Linked DNA regions of Homo sapiens: region 1 is linked to region 2. A link means that fine-mapping ties the variant in region 2 to the plasma level of a protein whose gene starts in the linked region. Region 2 holds a variant in brackets. A gene starts in the other region. All regions are shown on their forward strands. Region 1 holds the start of GZMB (granzyme B). Region 2 overlaps SLFN12L (schlafen family member 12 like).

The links. A credible set is the group of variants that fine-mapping cannot tell apart. PIP is the posterior inclusion probability: the model's chance that the variant is causal. Protein levels are from antibody-based Olink assays in UK Biobank. Linkage for the fine-mapping came from a reference panel and not from the study's own genotypes, which makes the PIPs less certain.
Region 1: it holds the start of GZMB, and the variant in region 2 is the best candidate, but not a certain one, in a credible set for the plasma level of the GZMB protein (UK Biobank, PIP 0.63).

The regions. Positions count from the first base shown.
Region 1 is chr14:24,629,589-24,637,922 of GRCh38, forward strand. GZMB (granzyme B) reads right to left here and starts at 4,602. Exons shown (of 5, transcript NM_004131.6): 1 at 4,518-4,602; 2 at 3,327-3,474; 3 at 2,736-2,871; 4 at 2,270-2,530; 5 at 1,366-1,626. The coding sequence starts at 4,572. The coding sequence ends at 1,483. It overlaps GZMH-AS1 (GZMH and GMZB antisense RNA 1), which reads left to right and starts at 3,514. Exons shown (of 3, transcript XR_007064087.1): 1 at 3,514-3,760; 2 at 4,708-8,334. RefSeq lists an enhancer at 3,981-5,180.
Region 2 is chr17:35,475,490-35,483,823 of GRCh38, forward strand. SLFN12L (schlafen family member 12 like) reads right to left here. Exons shown (of 5, transcript NM_001363830.2): 3 at 3,628-4,706; 4 at 2,586-2,696. Among named protein-coding and RNA genes, the nearest start is that of SLFN13, 31 kb to the left of the region's middle. The variant G/A (reference allele first, on the strand shown) is at 4,355.

The DNA.
Region 1 (8,334 bases), not on the chromosome of region 2:
AAAGTAAATGATTAAAGTTGTTTTCAAATCCCATACATTGCTGTTCTGGGGTCGCACGTGACAATACTTATACAAACTGTGTGAATATCTGGCCTCTTTCTCATATCTTCCAACCTACGATACCCAGAGACCCACGTGGTTCCATAAGGGCCTTGCCACTGAGATGCCAGCCCACCTCATGCCCTGGCAGGGAGGGGCCTCAGAAAAACCAGAAATAAAAATAAGATACAAATACTTTAATCCCATGGATTTCCATATACATCTCGCTCTTGTGAACTAATCTGAAGGACAGAAAGTGAGTGAAACAATTTGGATGAAAATTCTCAACATTGTCAGTTTCACTTGGGTTCAGATGATAGAGTCTGTTATTGTGTTCTCTTACTATCCTCTATGCCTGGTACATAGTAAGTGCTCAATGAGTATTTGTTTGTTGATTGATAGAAAAGATTGTGCTTTCTAGTCCTTCTGCAGAAAGGAGTCCTTTTGAACTCAAAGGGCTGATGTAGCCCAGGTGGCTAGCAGGGAATCTTAGCCTAGAGGCCAGCAGTGACCAAGAGGAACAGGTTTAAAGGGGCTCAGCCTGCTGACTGCCCAGGTGGGCAGTGAACCTTGAGTGTATGGGAGGACACTGGGCTGGATGGGAGGGGTTGAGCTGGCCCTACCTAGGGGAGAGATGGAGCCAAGGGTTGGAGAGAGACCGTGCCAGCCTTGTCCTCCATGGGTCTTACCTGGTTGCCACACAGGCCTGGTTTTTCTGAGGCCCCTCTCTGCCAGGGCATGAGATGGGCTGGCGTCTCAGTGGCAAGGCCCTTATGGAACCACATGGGTCTCTGGGTATCTTAGGTGGGTAGATATGAGGGAGGGGCCAGATCAGATCAGTGTGGTCTGGAGAGGACAAGAGTTGGTGGATTCTGAGAACACTCAGCAGGGATGAAGAGAAGGGGCAGCCAAGAGGCTGGAGGACGAGCTGAGCCTTGAGCTCAGAGGAGGGTAGAGAAACTAAGCCCAGGGGAGAATGAGGAGCCCCAGTGGGGGATGAGGAGTTAGGTCCCATGGTATTATCCCTTTTTTCTCTGTCATGTAACACTGGAGAAGGAGGTAAGAAGTTTACCCAAAGCCCCAGGACCAAAGTGGTCCATGTTGTCTCCTGATGGTGCTCAGCTTCAGCCTTGGCAGAAGGGCAGGCCCTGGAGAAACTGGTGTGGATAGGAAGGAGCTGAGTATCAGCTTCATGTGGGGGTTTGGGGAGGTGGCAAGGGGTGAGGGGAGAGGAGAAAGCAGAAAACAGCAAAATTGTGTCATTGGCCTGCATAGCGCAGATGTGGTGCCTGAGAATGAGGGTCAATGAATAAACAAGAAACCAGCTTTTCCACTCAGCTAAGAGGTATTTATTCAGTTGCTGGCACCTCTCCCAGTGTAAATCTGGACTTGGCTCCAGAGAAGGTGTTTCATTACAGCGGGGGCTTAGTTTGCTTCCTGTAGTTAGTAGCGTTTCATGGTTTTCTTTATCCAGTGTACAAAGCTTGAGACTTTGGTGCAGGCTCGTGGAGGCATGCCATTGTTTCGTCCATAGGAGACAATGCCCTGGGCCACCTTGTTACACACAAGAGGGCCTCCAGAGTCCCCCTGTGAATAGAGAGTGGAAGGACTGAGCTGATGCTCCTCCGGGTCCTGCCCTCTCTTCCATCTCAAGCCCCCTTTTAGAAAAGGCCAACTTGCACAGCCTACATGTGGGAGACCAGAGGGCAGGGCAGGCCGCTGGTGGCCCCCAGCTGCCAAGCTCTGGCCCTGGACATTGTTACTGCTTCACCTCATCCCAGGGGCCAGCCTCCGTCATGTCCCCCAGATCCTGAGATCGGAGGTATGTGGGACCGTTGGCTGTTTAAGGACCCAGAAGTGGGCAAGGAGGGCTGATGTCCACCATGGAGGACCAGCCCATTAACCACGTTGGGTACCAGCCTCTGAAGACACACCTGGTTATAATTACTGCACCCCCAGTGGGCACAGTTTCCTAATATCTGTGACCTGGAGTGGGTGGAGTGTTGCAAATTCATCCTTCCAAAGAAGCACCATCCACCATAAGCCTCCTGGTAAGTTTGCAGAGGCCCTAATTTCTCCCCAGCTCAGTCTAGTCCCCTCTTCTCTTTCCAGAGAGAAATATCACAGTCTAGTGGGTGAAGGAGTCCCCCACTACTTGAGTCTCCAGGTCTCAGATATTCCCCAAACATCTTTCTCCCAAGAGCCAATCCAGGCAGGTGCATAGTCTTACCTTAAAGGAAGTCTTTTTAATCTCTGGGTCCCCCACGCACAACTCAATGGTACTGTCGTAATAATGGCGTAAGTCAGATTCGCACTTTCGATCTTCCTGCACTGTCATCTTCACCTCTTGTAGTGTGTGTGAGTGTTTTCCCAGGGGGGCCGTCTGCCCCCAGCCGGCCACACTGCATGTCTGCCCTGGCTTCACCTGGGCCTTGTTGCTAGGTAGCCTGAGGGGCTGCACAGCTCTGGTCCGCTTGGCCTTTCTCTCCAGCTGGTGGGGAAGAGGCAAGAAAGTCCAGGTCAGCCAACGAACTTCTGGGCCCCGACACAGTGATGGGGCTGCACAATCTTCCCTCTCCTCTGAGGCATAGGAACTAACCAAGAGGCCAGGATGGAAAGGAGGGAAGGGCCGGCATTCCAGGGGGAGTGGAACCAACTGGACCAAGAAGAGCAAGAGTGGCAGGAGTGTGCCTCACCTGCAGTAGCATGATGTCGTTGGAGAAGTTCTTAGGATTATAGGCTGGATGGGGGATGGGTCTTTTCACAGGGATAAACTGCTGGGTCGGCTCCTGTTCTTTGATATTGTGGGCCCCCAAGGTGACATTTATGGAGCTGCACAGAGAGCAGAGTGAGGATGGGGGTGGAGTCACAGGGTATACAGCCCAGAGACAGTGAAGAGCAGGTGACAGCTGGGGCAGGGCTGCAGCTGAGGGGAAATTAAGGGGACAGTCGGTCCCCAGGAATTGGAATTCTGGTAATTGCACCAGGTTTCTCAGGGTTCGGTTCCCCCTAGAAACACAGGTGGAATTGCTTCAGTTTGTATTCTATGCCAAAGTATGCCCCCAGTTCTAAATATGGCAGGCTTGGTCACTCTGCTGTTTCTTACTTCAGCAGCACCTCTGGAACCAACCTTCCCCTCTCTCCACAAACTTAACTGCCCTTTTCTCACCCTCTAAGGAGACCTCCTGGCATGTGTGTTCACAGGAGCCCAGGGAGCTCCTTGGGAAGAAGGCAGGGGTCTCTGTGGAGTGTTTCCAGGAGGGTGTGGGCTGTTTTCTGCTCCTCACCTTCCCCAACAGTGAGCAGCTGTCAGCACGAAGTCGTCTCGTATCAGGAAGCCACCGCACCTCTTCAGAGACTTCTGATCCCAGATCATAAGATAAGCCATGTAGGGGCGGGAGTGGGGCTTGGCCTCATGTCCCCCGATGATCTCCCCTGAAGGAAAAGTCTGTCTGCTTGTGGGCACCCATGGAATCTGCTGGGTGGGCACCTGCTTAGTGGCTCCAGAACTCCTGGGCATTTGGGAGCCTGGGATAGCCTGGAGTTGGGAGTGGCCTGGAGGAAGGGGCTTCAATTTCCTGCTCTGAAAAAGGGAAGAACAGCAGACTTTGGTCTGTAAATCTTTCTTCCATATGTAGTTGAAGGCGAGCATACCTGTCTTAGGGACAGTGAAATCCCAGAGGCTCCTGATCATTCCTCTCCTGACTTTGCTTTGTTTCAGGTGAGTTTCCAAGACCCTTATGAGTCCTGTGGTGTCTAGGATAGTGCTGCTTTCTAATGGCCAGGGTGTAAGTGGAGGGATCTAGATACTGTCATATCCTGTTTCCTAGAGCCTGACATGTAGTGGGTGCCCAGTAAATGTTCATGGCTGCATGATGGACTGGCTCCAGTTAGCCTCTGGATGAGGGCTGGTAGAGCAGTGCTGGTGGAATTCTAGAAAGCAGGGAAGCTGGGGCCTGCCGTAGTGCCTCATCCTTGGAAAGAGGGGAGCCACCAAAGGCCAGGGAAGAAAAGCAGAGTTGGAGAATGGGACTGAGCAAACACATTAACAGTGTTCTGAGGACAGTGATTGTACCAATTCTGCTGTCAGCTGAGCTCTGGGTTTCTCTCCTAAGTAGACAGTGAGAGAAGCACCTGTCTTATCCCAGAAACAGAAGCCAGGCCTACTCTAGAATAATTTAATATTTCTCTTTTCTAGTTTCCCATCCTCTGCCATTTACTTCTAGGAAAGTCCTACTCTCCAGGTGACAAAGGTGGGCTCTGGGGAAGGGATAGTACCCACTGGCTCTTCTTGAGAATGGCCTGCTGCTCTGCCATTCCTGCTGATAGCTTATCCAGCATCACACTTGGGGGGTCTTGGTAGAATGGGAGCTGGAGTTCAGAACATTCCTGGTAGATAGATGGATCAGGAATGTGGAGAAAGGGCAGGAGACCTGTGGGATGGGGTTGGGCCCCCGAGGGTGGAGACGGTCACTCACCTGCATCTGCCCTGGGCAGCAGGAGGAAGGCCAGCAGAAGCAGGATTGGTTGCATCTTCTCAGGAAGGCTGCCCTGGTTGGAGCTGCTGTTGTTTCCTCCTTGCTCTCTTTTAGCTCTTGGGAGAGGAAAGAGGTGGAGCAGGCTCAGTGACTTCATGTTCCCCTCTGGTTTTGTGGTGTCTCATCACAGATTTTCTGTAAATGCTGCCCACCCCCACTGCCTCTGCCTGATGACGTCCTCTGGGTGCTTGTGTGAGAATCATGCAGTGACCACATCATCACCCACAGCTGATGACTCAGAGTGGACCACCTATTCAGCCCAGAGCAGGAACCCAAGCCTATGAAGTGAATTGTAGGATGTGGTATCAGCCAGTAGAGGTACTGGAGCACCAGAAACCTGAGTTCCCAGTGATAGAACCGCCAATGCCTCATGGCCATGCTGCTAAATCCATCAGGATAGTTTCTTTAGCAGGTATGTGTTTGAGCCCTTCTGTTGTGCTAGAACCAAGCATGTTGGAGATGTGTCTCCTTCACTTAGAGAGCTGACCATCTGGTTGAAGAGACGGAAATGCCAGGAGCCAGAGTACAGTTTGGGGAGGGCTATGGTAGCACAATACACAAGGCAGTAACAAAGCATGGCCACCATCTACTAGACCCATCTAGCAACCCATTTATTATCATAGCTTCCTTTCTAGAGAATTTCTAACATCCCTTATTTAGTTACAAATGTTTAGTGTGAGAGTCCACCTCTTTTCTGAATGCTTTCAATAAAAGTCCTGTACTTGACATTTTATTGGGCTAGATTAATGAATTGCTAGGAGTCAAATCCACTTTGGGTAGGCTGGGGTCAGTCTACTCAAGCCACTAGAACCAAGAATGAGAAAGGGCTGGTTCTCTAAAGGACGTTTGTGGTGCTAAATTGCTGATACCATATGAAGTGAGGAAGCATGCCAGGCAGCCAAAGATCAGTAGTTGTGTTGTTTAGTATTCTGTCTCCTGTCCAGAGAGCCACACTTCTTACATAGCAGGCTCAGCACATAACAGGCTCACAGTAAACATTTGCTAAACAAACTACACTAATGCTATCATTATAATGGATGTGAAAGATTGTTGTTTCTGAACAGCCCGTGCCCAATTCTGTTAAAAGACAACTAAGTCTCTCTACATGGTTCGATTCTTGTGATTTGTTTCCACCTTTATATTTTCTGTGAGGAAATTTTTCTATGAGGAATGGTATATCTCAAAATATAGAATTCCAGTGTAAACGTCTTCCTTGTCAATAGCAAGCCAACTACATTTATCAAACTTCTATTTTTTGAACCTAGCTTGCCCCATAGTAGACGTTTTAAAAATAATTTTTTCTGATTATAGTCATAATATATGTTTGTTAAGAAAATTTGGAAAGTAGGAAGGGAAAATATCACTTTTTAACCTGTCTCCCACAGACTGACTGTTACCATAAGCAGTGTGTTTTAAATACTTGGGATCACATTGTACATACAATGCAATTTATTTTATCCTTGATTAACCCTACAAATTAAGCATTTTCCCCATGCTCGTAGAAATCTTAGTCAATACAACTATAGTCTTTCTTTCCTAGGCATTAAAAAATTTAATATGCAAGTAATTTTTAAATAATTTTAGCAAAGCGAAAATAATAAACATTACCTAATTTCTCATCATTCACTGATAACCATCTTTAATGTCTTGAAATATGCTCTAGCACATTTTTTCTCATGTAATATCTGCATTTTTTAAAATTAAAAGGGGATTATGCTAAACATAAGTTTATGACCCATTTAAAAAATTGAGGTAAAATTCACATAACATACAATTAACCATTTTAAAGTATTCAATTCAGTGACATTTAGCACATTCAAAATCTGCAACCACCACCTCTGGATATTTCATATAAACGGAATCACACAATACATGACCTGTTGTGGCTGGCTACATTCACTTGTAATAATGTTTCTGAGATTCATACAAGCTGTAGCACATGCCAGTATTCGTTCTTTTTAATGGAAAAATAATATTCCCATTGTATGTTTATACCACAAGTTATTTGTTCATCTGTCAATGGACATTTGGGTTGTTTTCATCTTTTGGCTATTGTAGCTAATGCAGCAATAATAAGCATTTGTGTACAAATTTCTGCATGAACAATATGTTTTCAGTTCTTTTGGATATATACCAAATATATATACTTTTGGAATTTCTGAGTTATACAATAATCCTATTTTTAATTTTTTAAGGAACCACCAAACTGTTTTCCACAGTGGTTGTACCCTTTTGCATTGCTTATCAGCAACATAGGAAAGTTCCTATTTCTCTGCATCCTTGCTGACACTTGTTATTTTAAAATTATTATCTTCATCCTAATGGGTGTAAAGTAGTATGTCATATGGTTTTGATTCACATTTCCTTTATGAGTAATGATGTTGAGCATCACTTCATGTGTTTGCTGGTTATTCGCATATCTTCTTTGGAGAAATGTTGATTCAAGTCCTTTGCCCATTCTTAAAATTGCGTTGTTTTTGTTTTCATTGTTGAGTTGGAAGAGTTTGTTATATATTCTGGATACTCAGCCCTTATCAGATATGTGGCTTGTAAATATTTTCTCCCATTCTGCAGATTGTCTTTTCATTTTCTTGATATTGTCATTCCATGTGCAAATTAAAAAAATTTTATGCATTCAAATGTATCAATTTTATCTTTTGTTGCTTGTGCTTTTGGTGTCAAATTTAAGAATCCATTGACAAATCAGAAACCATGAAGATTACGCCTGTTTTCTTCTAAGAGTTTTATGGTTTTGGCCCTTATATTTAGGATTGATTTATTTTAAATTAATTATTGTATGTGACATAAGGTAGGAGTCTACTAGAGTATTTTGCACATGGCTATCCAATTGTTCCAGCACCACTTGTTGAAGATATTATTCTTTCCCCACTGAATGTTCAAGACCCCCTTGACAATCCTTATCAAAAATCAAATGGCCATAAATGTTGTGTTTATTTCTGGACTCTGAATCTATTCCATTGATCCATATGTCTATCCTTATGCCTTTGCCATGCTGTTTTAATTACTGTAGCTTGTAAGTTTTGAAATTGAGAAGTGTAAGTACTCCAACTTTGTTTTTCTATTTCAATATTGGTTTTGCTTTTTTGGATCCTATGGAATTACATATGAATTTTAGGATTGGCTTTTCCATTTCAGCAAAGAAGACCATTTGAAATTTTGACAGAGATTGCATTGAATCTATAGATTGCTTTGGGAAGTATTGCCATTTAACAATATTAAGTATCCCTATCCGTGAACATGGGACATCTTTCCATTTAATCAGCAATTATTTGTGGTTTTTAGTGTACAATTCTTTCACTTCCTTGGTTAAATTTAGTCCCATGTATTTTATTCTTTGGGATGTTATTATAAAGGAAATTGTTTTCTTAGTTTCCTTTTTTTATTGTTCATTGTGGGTTTGTGTATAGAAACACAACTGATTTTGTACCCTGAAATTTGTTGAATTTGCTTATTAACTCTACTAGTTTTTGTGTGGATTATTTGGGATTTTCTTTGTATACAGTCATGTCATCTGCAAATAGAAATAGTTTTACTTCTTCCTTCATAATTGGATACCTTTTCTTTCATTTTCTTACCTAATTGCTCTGTTTAGGAATTCCAGTGCAATATTGAATAGCAGTGATGAAGTGAGCATCTGGTTGGATTTTCTATTTCTTCTTGAGTCTGTTTTGGTAGTTTCTGTGTTTCTAGTAATTTGTCCATTTCATCTAGACTACCTAATTTGTTGGTGTACAAA
Region 2 (8,334 bases):
ATGGGGAAATAATGATAAATTATAAAAGACTGAGAACTTCCAACTTAAGCCATGGATACAAAGCAGCTTGTATTAGATTAATTCTCCCACCAAAAGCAACTATAAAAGCTATGTAAAAGTGTATCAGGGCCAGGCATGGTGGCTCACACCTGTAATAACAACACTTTGGGAGGCAGAGGCAGGAGGATCACTTGTGCCCAGGTGTTCAAGACCAGTCTAGGCAACACTGTAAGACCTCTTCTCTACAAAAAGGTTACAAAGTTAGCCAAGCATGGTAGTGCATGCTGGTAGTCCCAGCTACTTGGGAGGCTGAGGTGGGAGGATCACTTGAGCCCAGGAAGTTGAGGCTGCAGTGAGCTGAGATCATGCCACTGCACTCCAGCCTGGGCAACAGCATGAGATTCTGTCTCAAAAAAATTCTACATATATATATATTTTTTTAAATTTATATATATGTATATATATATATCATAAAACTATAATTTAAAGGACTGGAGAGCAACCAATACAAGCAGGACTTAAAGGGCTACAATCTTTAATACAGAAGAATCACAGGAAGTAGCTTCACATTCACCTCTGCTTTTTCCCTAAGGAGATTTTCCATATCACAGCATGGGTAAATAGAGCCCATGCAGAAATCAGCAGTTTTACTGGGCTAAAGAAAACAGAGGTCAGACTTCAGGGCTGCCAGAGGAGCTGGGATTTCAGAAACAAAATCCCAGAGAAGATGAAACTGAAGAGAAGAAGCCAAAATCTACCCACAAATTTCCCTCAACTCACTGGCTAATACAGGTGAGATGCTAGAAACACAGAAGAAAATATCAACTAGGGCTGGGTGTGGTGGCTTATGCCTGTAATCCCAGCAGTTTAGGAGGCCGAGGCAGGTGGATTGCTTGAGCCCAGGAGTTTGAGACCAGCCTGGGCAATATGGTGAAACCCTGTCACAAAAAGAAAGAAAAGAAAGCAAGGAAGGAAGGAAGGAAGGAAGGAAGGAAGGAAGGAAGGAAGGAAGGAAGGAAGGAAGGAAGGAAAGAAGGAAGGAAGGAGAAAATATCAACTGATCAACTGGGAGATTAAAGAGCTGAACATCACTTTCATCAGCCTCACGGTGCTCAGGAAACACAAATTGTAATTCAACTCCCAGCCAAGTAGAAGGGTCTTGGTAAATACCCCAGACTTTAAGACCCCAGAAGAGCCATGACCTAGTAATTAGTGCAAAATTAAAAGCTACTATACCTAGAAAAGCATAAAACAAAACTTCAAAAGAGTAAAAGTTATCACTGGTGTTCTGTCTGCCAAAAAAAAAAAAAATGTGTAACCCTATCTGAAGAAATGTAACATCTACTAAAGTCTCTACAATTTGTAATCCATAATACTATACAAAATTAAGAGACAGGATAAAAATCAGAACAAATTACTAGAAAATAAGAGAAAAACTGGATTATAGAAAAAGACTGGCAAGTGCTTCAGACATTGGAGTCATCAAAGAGGGACTTTAAAATAACTGTTACATCTTTTTTAAAACCCCCCAAAAATAAAATAGGTGAAAAGATGAAGATGTCCTGATCCTCTTACAGGCTCAGAAAATTGAAATCAATGGATAAAAATCATCAGGGGTTTGGTGGTCTTAAGCCCCAGTTTGTTCAAGGGTCAGTTGTATGCAGTAATATCCCAGAGGTGGCGATCAGCAGGTGAAACTGAGTTTTCAGTAACTGGATCTAGGAAAAGTGGTTATCCACATGGGATAAAATGAAATAGCCCCCTACATCACCGTTTATGGATGTGGATTACATATTTAAATGTTAAATGTTAAGTGCAAAACTTTAAAATTTTTAAAAGAAAATAAACAGAAATATCTTTATAACCCCGGGGTAGGGAAGGATCTCTTACACAAGGCACAAAGAGCACTAAACCACAAAATTTTTAAATGGCAAGTTTGACTATATCCAATTTAAAACTGCTAGGGAGAATATGCCTTGGGAAAAGAGAAAATGCAAGTCATGAACTTGGAGAAGACGTCTGAAATCTGTACTATCTGTGACTAAACGAGGATTTTATGTTAGAATCTGTGAATTGCTCCTAGAAATCAGTAAGAAAAAGATAAAGCCTATTACAAAAATGAGCAAAAGACAGAATCGCCACTTCATAGAAGATAAAATATCTTCTATGGGAGATATTTTCTTCCATGTATATACCCAAATAAATACCGATTTGACTGAGGAAGAAAAGAAGTTCAAGAGAAAAGAAGTTCAAGTAGAAAGATGAAGAGAGAAGTCTGGCATTGGAAAAGATGTGGCATTTCCAATATATTGCTGGTGGAAGTAAAGTGAGCTATCTACTTTGGAAATAATTTGACATTATCTTATTACTTAAATATTCACACACTGCCTGAACGAACAATTCTACCCCTACTTAGGCACCTAAAGAAATAGAATTTGACAAATTCAATGACTAAAAACACCAAAGAATTTCCATAAACAAAAGAATGTGCTTCCATAACAAATATCAAGACAGAGCTGGTTTGAAGAGAAGGAGGTTTGAACACAGTTACACCAACAACTCCACGGAAGCCAGAATTAAATTACCTGGAAGGTGATATCTCAGTGGCTGAATTTTGAAGTTAATATATTCACGAAGAGGATAACTCTGGGAGACAGGTGATGATGTACTTGCTGGAGAGGGCAGTTCCTCACATACTATGGAATAATGTTAGAAAACAAAAATCACGCTCTTAATTTGGCATGGGAGAGACTCAAGCTAACTAATGCACAGTATACCAAACGTCTACTTAGAACTGATCCTGCATTCCCAATACAGAACATTAGATATTGTGGTTACATATTGTGGTTAGATTCCTAGGTCAGATACAAATTGTAAAATTAACTCTTGATGCTGCTGAAACACTCTATACTTGGAAGGAAAATTAACAGTAAAAATGCATTGATAGCAATTTAATACATTGCCATATAACTGAGTTTATTTTAAAACAAGTTAAAATTAGAAGAATGTGATGGCTAGTGAAGGAAAACTGGGTTTTATGCAGATTCTGAGGAACAAGTTTGCATTTTCAGAGATTTTGTAAGTTGCTAGTTCTGGTCTAATCTCACTGGAGGCTTTCCTTTTCCAAAACCAGATAAAATATCAGCATTATTCTTCTCTTATTGGTACAATTTAGGTTACTCTTTGGCTCATAAATGTGAGAGGAAGAGGGGAAGTCTTTACAGGAAATAAATGGAAAGTGGGTAAAGAAAGATGAAAGAGCAAGCAAGTAAAAGAGTAAGTGTTCCCAAAAGAAAGCAATGGTTAGTTACAGAAAATGAGCCCTGAAAGAAAAACGAAAAGAATTGAACAGGCTTTCCTTGAAAGTGAGTAAAGAAATGGTAGAGAAGAAACATCTAGAATCTTTGCATCAGATAAGGCTACTAAGAGTAGATATTTAGTTATTGTATGGAATATCTATCTTCTAAGTGTGCAGAAGAAAACAAGAGGCAGGGAAGTATTGGTTGTATCCACCAGAGATGTTGAAATTTGAAGACTTTTAATCTTGTCCCTAATCCCAAAGATACAATAAAACCTTCCTGCCACCCAAGCCAAAGGTATCCTTATTGCCAATCCTCCTTCCTCAACCTGGTTCTGAATCCACCATGAACTGGATCCATTCCTTCTCGGTCAACTGCTTAACTCTGTTATCTTTCACGTGCCAGGAATCAGGCTTTTTAGCAAACACTGCACAGCAGAAGCGTTCCACTCTGAGTGCATACACATATCCACAAAGCCTTCCTTTATCATATACTCCAAGGAATTTGCATAAGTAATTTATCGTCCCCTTCTCCACACAGAAGTGATGCACAGGCAGTTTCCCAATGGAATTTTTTGTTACTTCTTCTAACTTAGTAAGATAACTCTTCTCTGCTTTAAAGCCAATTACTTCTTTATCTTCATTTAGACCAACGAATAAATATCCTCCATCAGTATTTGCAAATGCAGAAACATATTGAGGGAGAATCTCTGTAATTCGTTGTAACAACTTTTCAGTCGAGAAGTTTTTTATTTCAACGTGTGTGGATTCAGTAAAGGTCAATTTTTCTTTATAACCAAGTTCTGTTCTGTTAAAAAAATCAGCAGCCAAGGCTTCCATGTTACTTTCTTCTTGTACATCAACACAGGCCCTTTTTGCAGGGAATTCTGGTCTTAAATATGCTCTCCCTCCAGTTTTTTCCATGTCTTTGAGGAACTCCAGTGCAGCAGAAGCATTCATGACTTTTGCAGACGTTACATCTCTCTTGTACAAACTGGAGCTCAACGTGGCAATCTGCGGACCAGAGGTTTCCAAGCTCCATGATTTCACAAAAAT[G/A]TGAAAGTAGTTACCATTCTGCATGAAGTCCAGGAAATTAGGAACAAATGGCAGCATGTTACTAAAAGAATTTTCCAAATCTAGCCCTATTCCATCTTTTTTATAACTATAGCCTTTATTCTCAACTTCAGCCTTGATCACTCCCCCTCCAGAATTCAGCAGAGCACACACAGCTCGTGAGACATTTTCATTCTGCTGTTTTCTCAGTTGACAATCCTTCATTTTTTTTCTATTGTTCTCTCCAAGAGTGACTCTTCCCACATTTAGAACCAGCTCAGCATAGTTTGTGTCTAAATCAATACTGATGTTCATTTTCCCAGCAGCTAAGCCATTTCCACGCAGAAATTCTTTTCTGTAAAATAGAGCCGTTAGAATAGGAGTTAAGCCTGAGAGACAGCAAATTCTGCATTATGAGGCAAACGTAGAAAAATCCTTTACTGTATATTTTCCACTAGACTGGTAAGTATATGGGTCTGAGATAACTAATTTCTAACAAATTTTGAGCTAAGGCTGTGATAATTTATACTCCTACTGAATTTTCAAATTTGTTACAACTGTTTTATACGATCTTATTCTAATAATTTTAATCTTGTCTTTATGTGTTCGTTGTGTCCTTTCTCATCACTAATATTGTACAATTTGTTTTCTCTCTTCTTTCTTTAAGTAAATCCCTGGAGGGATTCTATGTTTTTATTTTCTCAGTGGACAAGGTTTTAGTCATGCATATTATTTCTTCTTTACTTTTTATTTTAATAATTTTAGCTTTTACATTCATTAATTATCTCCTTTTATGGGAAATCCTTTTGGAAAACTGCCAGATAGGGTCTAAGAGGGTCCAGCAATAATAATCTTAATTATTTTTTATTCTTATAAGAATGAATTAGATTCACAAATTTTGGGCATTGATCGCAAGCAAAACAGACCAACTCCTTGTGCCCTTTCCCTATCAAACATCCACGTTTACAAGGAGGTAATCGTGGGTGGCAAGCCACCCAGGTGCCAAGGCAAGAGACTGAGGGCACAAGCTCTTCCAGTATAATAAAGAAAATATATAGAATAAGAATAGTTATACTAAAAATAGATTATAGATATGATTATATATGATTATCATTAATCATTAGTTTGTGGTATTATTATTCCAATATTATAATAATCTTTGTTCTACAATTATAACCTAGAAAAAAACCAGGCCATACAGAGATAGGAGCTGAAGGGACATGATGAAAAGTGACCAGAAAACAAGTGTGAGCCCTTTGTTACGCCCGGACAGGGCTTCTAGAGGGCTGCCTGGCCTAGCGGTAACACCAGCGCCAGGGAAGGCACCCGTCACCTAGCAGACCTTGGTCTAACAGTAGCATCAGTGCCTGGGGAAGGCACCTGTTACTTAGCAGACCGGGAAGGGGAGTCTCCCTTTCCCCGGGGGAGTTAGAGAAGACTCTGCTCCACCACCTCTTGTGGAAGGCCTGACATCAGTCAGGCCTGCCCGCAGCCATCTGGAGGCCTAACCGTCTCCCTGTGATGCTGTGCTTCAGTGGTCATGCTCCTGGTCCACTTTCATGTTCCACCCTGTACACCTGGGTCTGCCTTCTAGATAGCAGTAGCAGAAATAGTGAAAGTACTAAAAGTCTTTGAAATGCGTAGAAGAAATAATGGCATAAGCCGTGCTCTCTGTCTCCATCTTGGCTGCCAAACAGGGAAGGGCCCCCTGTCCAGTGGACACATGACCCAAGTGACCTTACCTATCACTGGAGATGGCTCACACTCCTTACCCTGCCCCGTTGTCTTGTATCCAATCAATAACAGCGCAGCCTGGCATTCGGGGCCACTACCAGGCTCCGCACCTTGGTGGTAGTGGCCCCCCAGCCCAGCTGTTTTTCTTATATCTCTTTGTCCTGTGTCTTTATTTCTACAATCTCTCGTCTCCGCACACGAGGAGAAAAACCCACAGACCCTGTAGGGCTGGACCCCACAGATAATATTGGTTTTTTTGTTTGTTTGTTTTGTTGTTTGTTTTTTGTTTTTGTTTTTGTTTTTGAGATGGAGTTTCGCTCTTGTTGCCCAGGCTGGAGTGCAATGGCACAATCTCAGGTCACTGCAACCTCCACCTCCTGAGTTCAAGGGATTCTCCTGCCTCAGCCTCCCAAGTAGCTGGCATTAAGGCACCTGCCACCATGCCTGCCTAATTTTTTTGTATTTTTAGTAGAGACAGCGTTTCACCATGTTGGCCAGGCTGGTCTCGATGATGATCCTGACCTCAGATGATCCACCTGCCTTGGCCTCCCAAAGTTTTGGGATTACAGGCATGAGCCACAATGCCCAGTCAAGGTAATATTCTTATATACAAAACACCTGTGCTCTACCTTGAATGTTTGCATCCTCTCAAAATTCATATGTTGAAATTCTAACACCCAACATGATGGGCGTTTGGGAGGTGATTAGGTTAAAGGGTAGATCCCTCATGAATGAGATTAGTGCTCTTCTAAAAGGGACTTCAGAAAGCTAGGGATGGCAGCCTGCCATCACAAAGGCTGCAGCAGGGAGGGGCAGCTAGGGCTGCACACTTTCTGGAGCCCGTGGGAGCCCTGCCTCTTCCAAGTTGGGACGTGAGCTCCCCAGGTGCTGCTGCAGCCACCCAAACCACCACTGTAGACCCAGGCCTCCCGCTCTCTGCAGCATGCTAGAATCCTGCCCCACAACCCTGCCCCATGCAGCTGCAGCCACCCAAATCGAGATTGCAGATTCAGGCATCTCTGCACTCTTGGGGCCTGAGAAGATCCCCCTGCCCTCGCAGGCTCAGAAGTGCCTGCTCCCACTGCCTGGCTTCTCCTTCTCCCTGCTGTCGGTGCCCACTCTGATCTGGGAGCAAAGGCTGGCCAAACTCCGGAGACATAAATGGCAGTGGGAGGCAGACAGATTCCTGGGTCAAAGGCGGCGGGTCCCCAGTAGGGCCACACCTTCAGGCCTGGGAGGGCCTGAAGGCTGGGGACCGGGCTGCCAGTGCTGTAGACTGTGGGGACTTGTGGTGCCTCTTCTGGGGCTGCATGTGGACCAATGGCACACACTTCCTCCCCTCTGAGGTCCATAAAAGCCCTGGGCTCAGCCAGAGCAGGGGCAGAGGAGGAAGAGATGAAGAGAGGACCAACTTCAGAGAGGAACTACCCTCTCTGCTGATAGCAGGAGAGGACAGGACAACCAGCCGCAGAGTGGAACTACCCTCTCTGCTGAGCGCTTCAGAGACCTGAAGAGACATTGGCTGCAGAGAGAAGCAACGGTCCCCAGGGCCTCCTCTCTGCTGAGAGCAGCAAACGTAGGAAGGACCAGTAGCAGATAGAAGCTACCCTCCCCAGGGCCTCCCCTCTGCTGAGAGCTGAACATTCCATGGGATGACCTGCCTACAGAGAGGAGTTACTCACTGCAGGTCTCCTCTGAGCTGTCCTAACATTTAATAAAGCTCATCTTCGTCTTGTTCACCCTTCACTTGTCTGCATACCTCATTCTTCCTGGACACAGGACAAGAACTCTGGCAAAGGTGCCGCCAGCCACAGAGGTTTCTGGCCAGAAAATCAACACCCTGAAGATCCTGTAACACAAGCTCACCCCTTCTGCCATATGAAAAACACAGAAGAAGTTGACAGTCTGCAATGGGAAGAAGGTCCTCACCAGAATCCAATGATGCTGGTATCTTGATCTTGGACTTCCCAGGCTCCAGAACTGAGTAATAAATTTCTGTTATTTATAAGTCACCCAATTTATGGTATTTTGTTGTGGCAGGCCAAACAGACTAAGACAGTGTGCTTTAGTCTATGTATACATAATCCATTAGCTCTTTTCCTTTAAAATCTATTGGGATCACTGTTTTGCTATAGACGAAAACCTAAAGACTGTAGGTTTGTCAAGTGGCCTAGAGACAGTTGAGAGTAAAGTCCATCATAGGTAGTAATCACTACACTAGGAAAGGGCTATAAAGGGGTCAGAATATT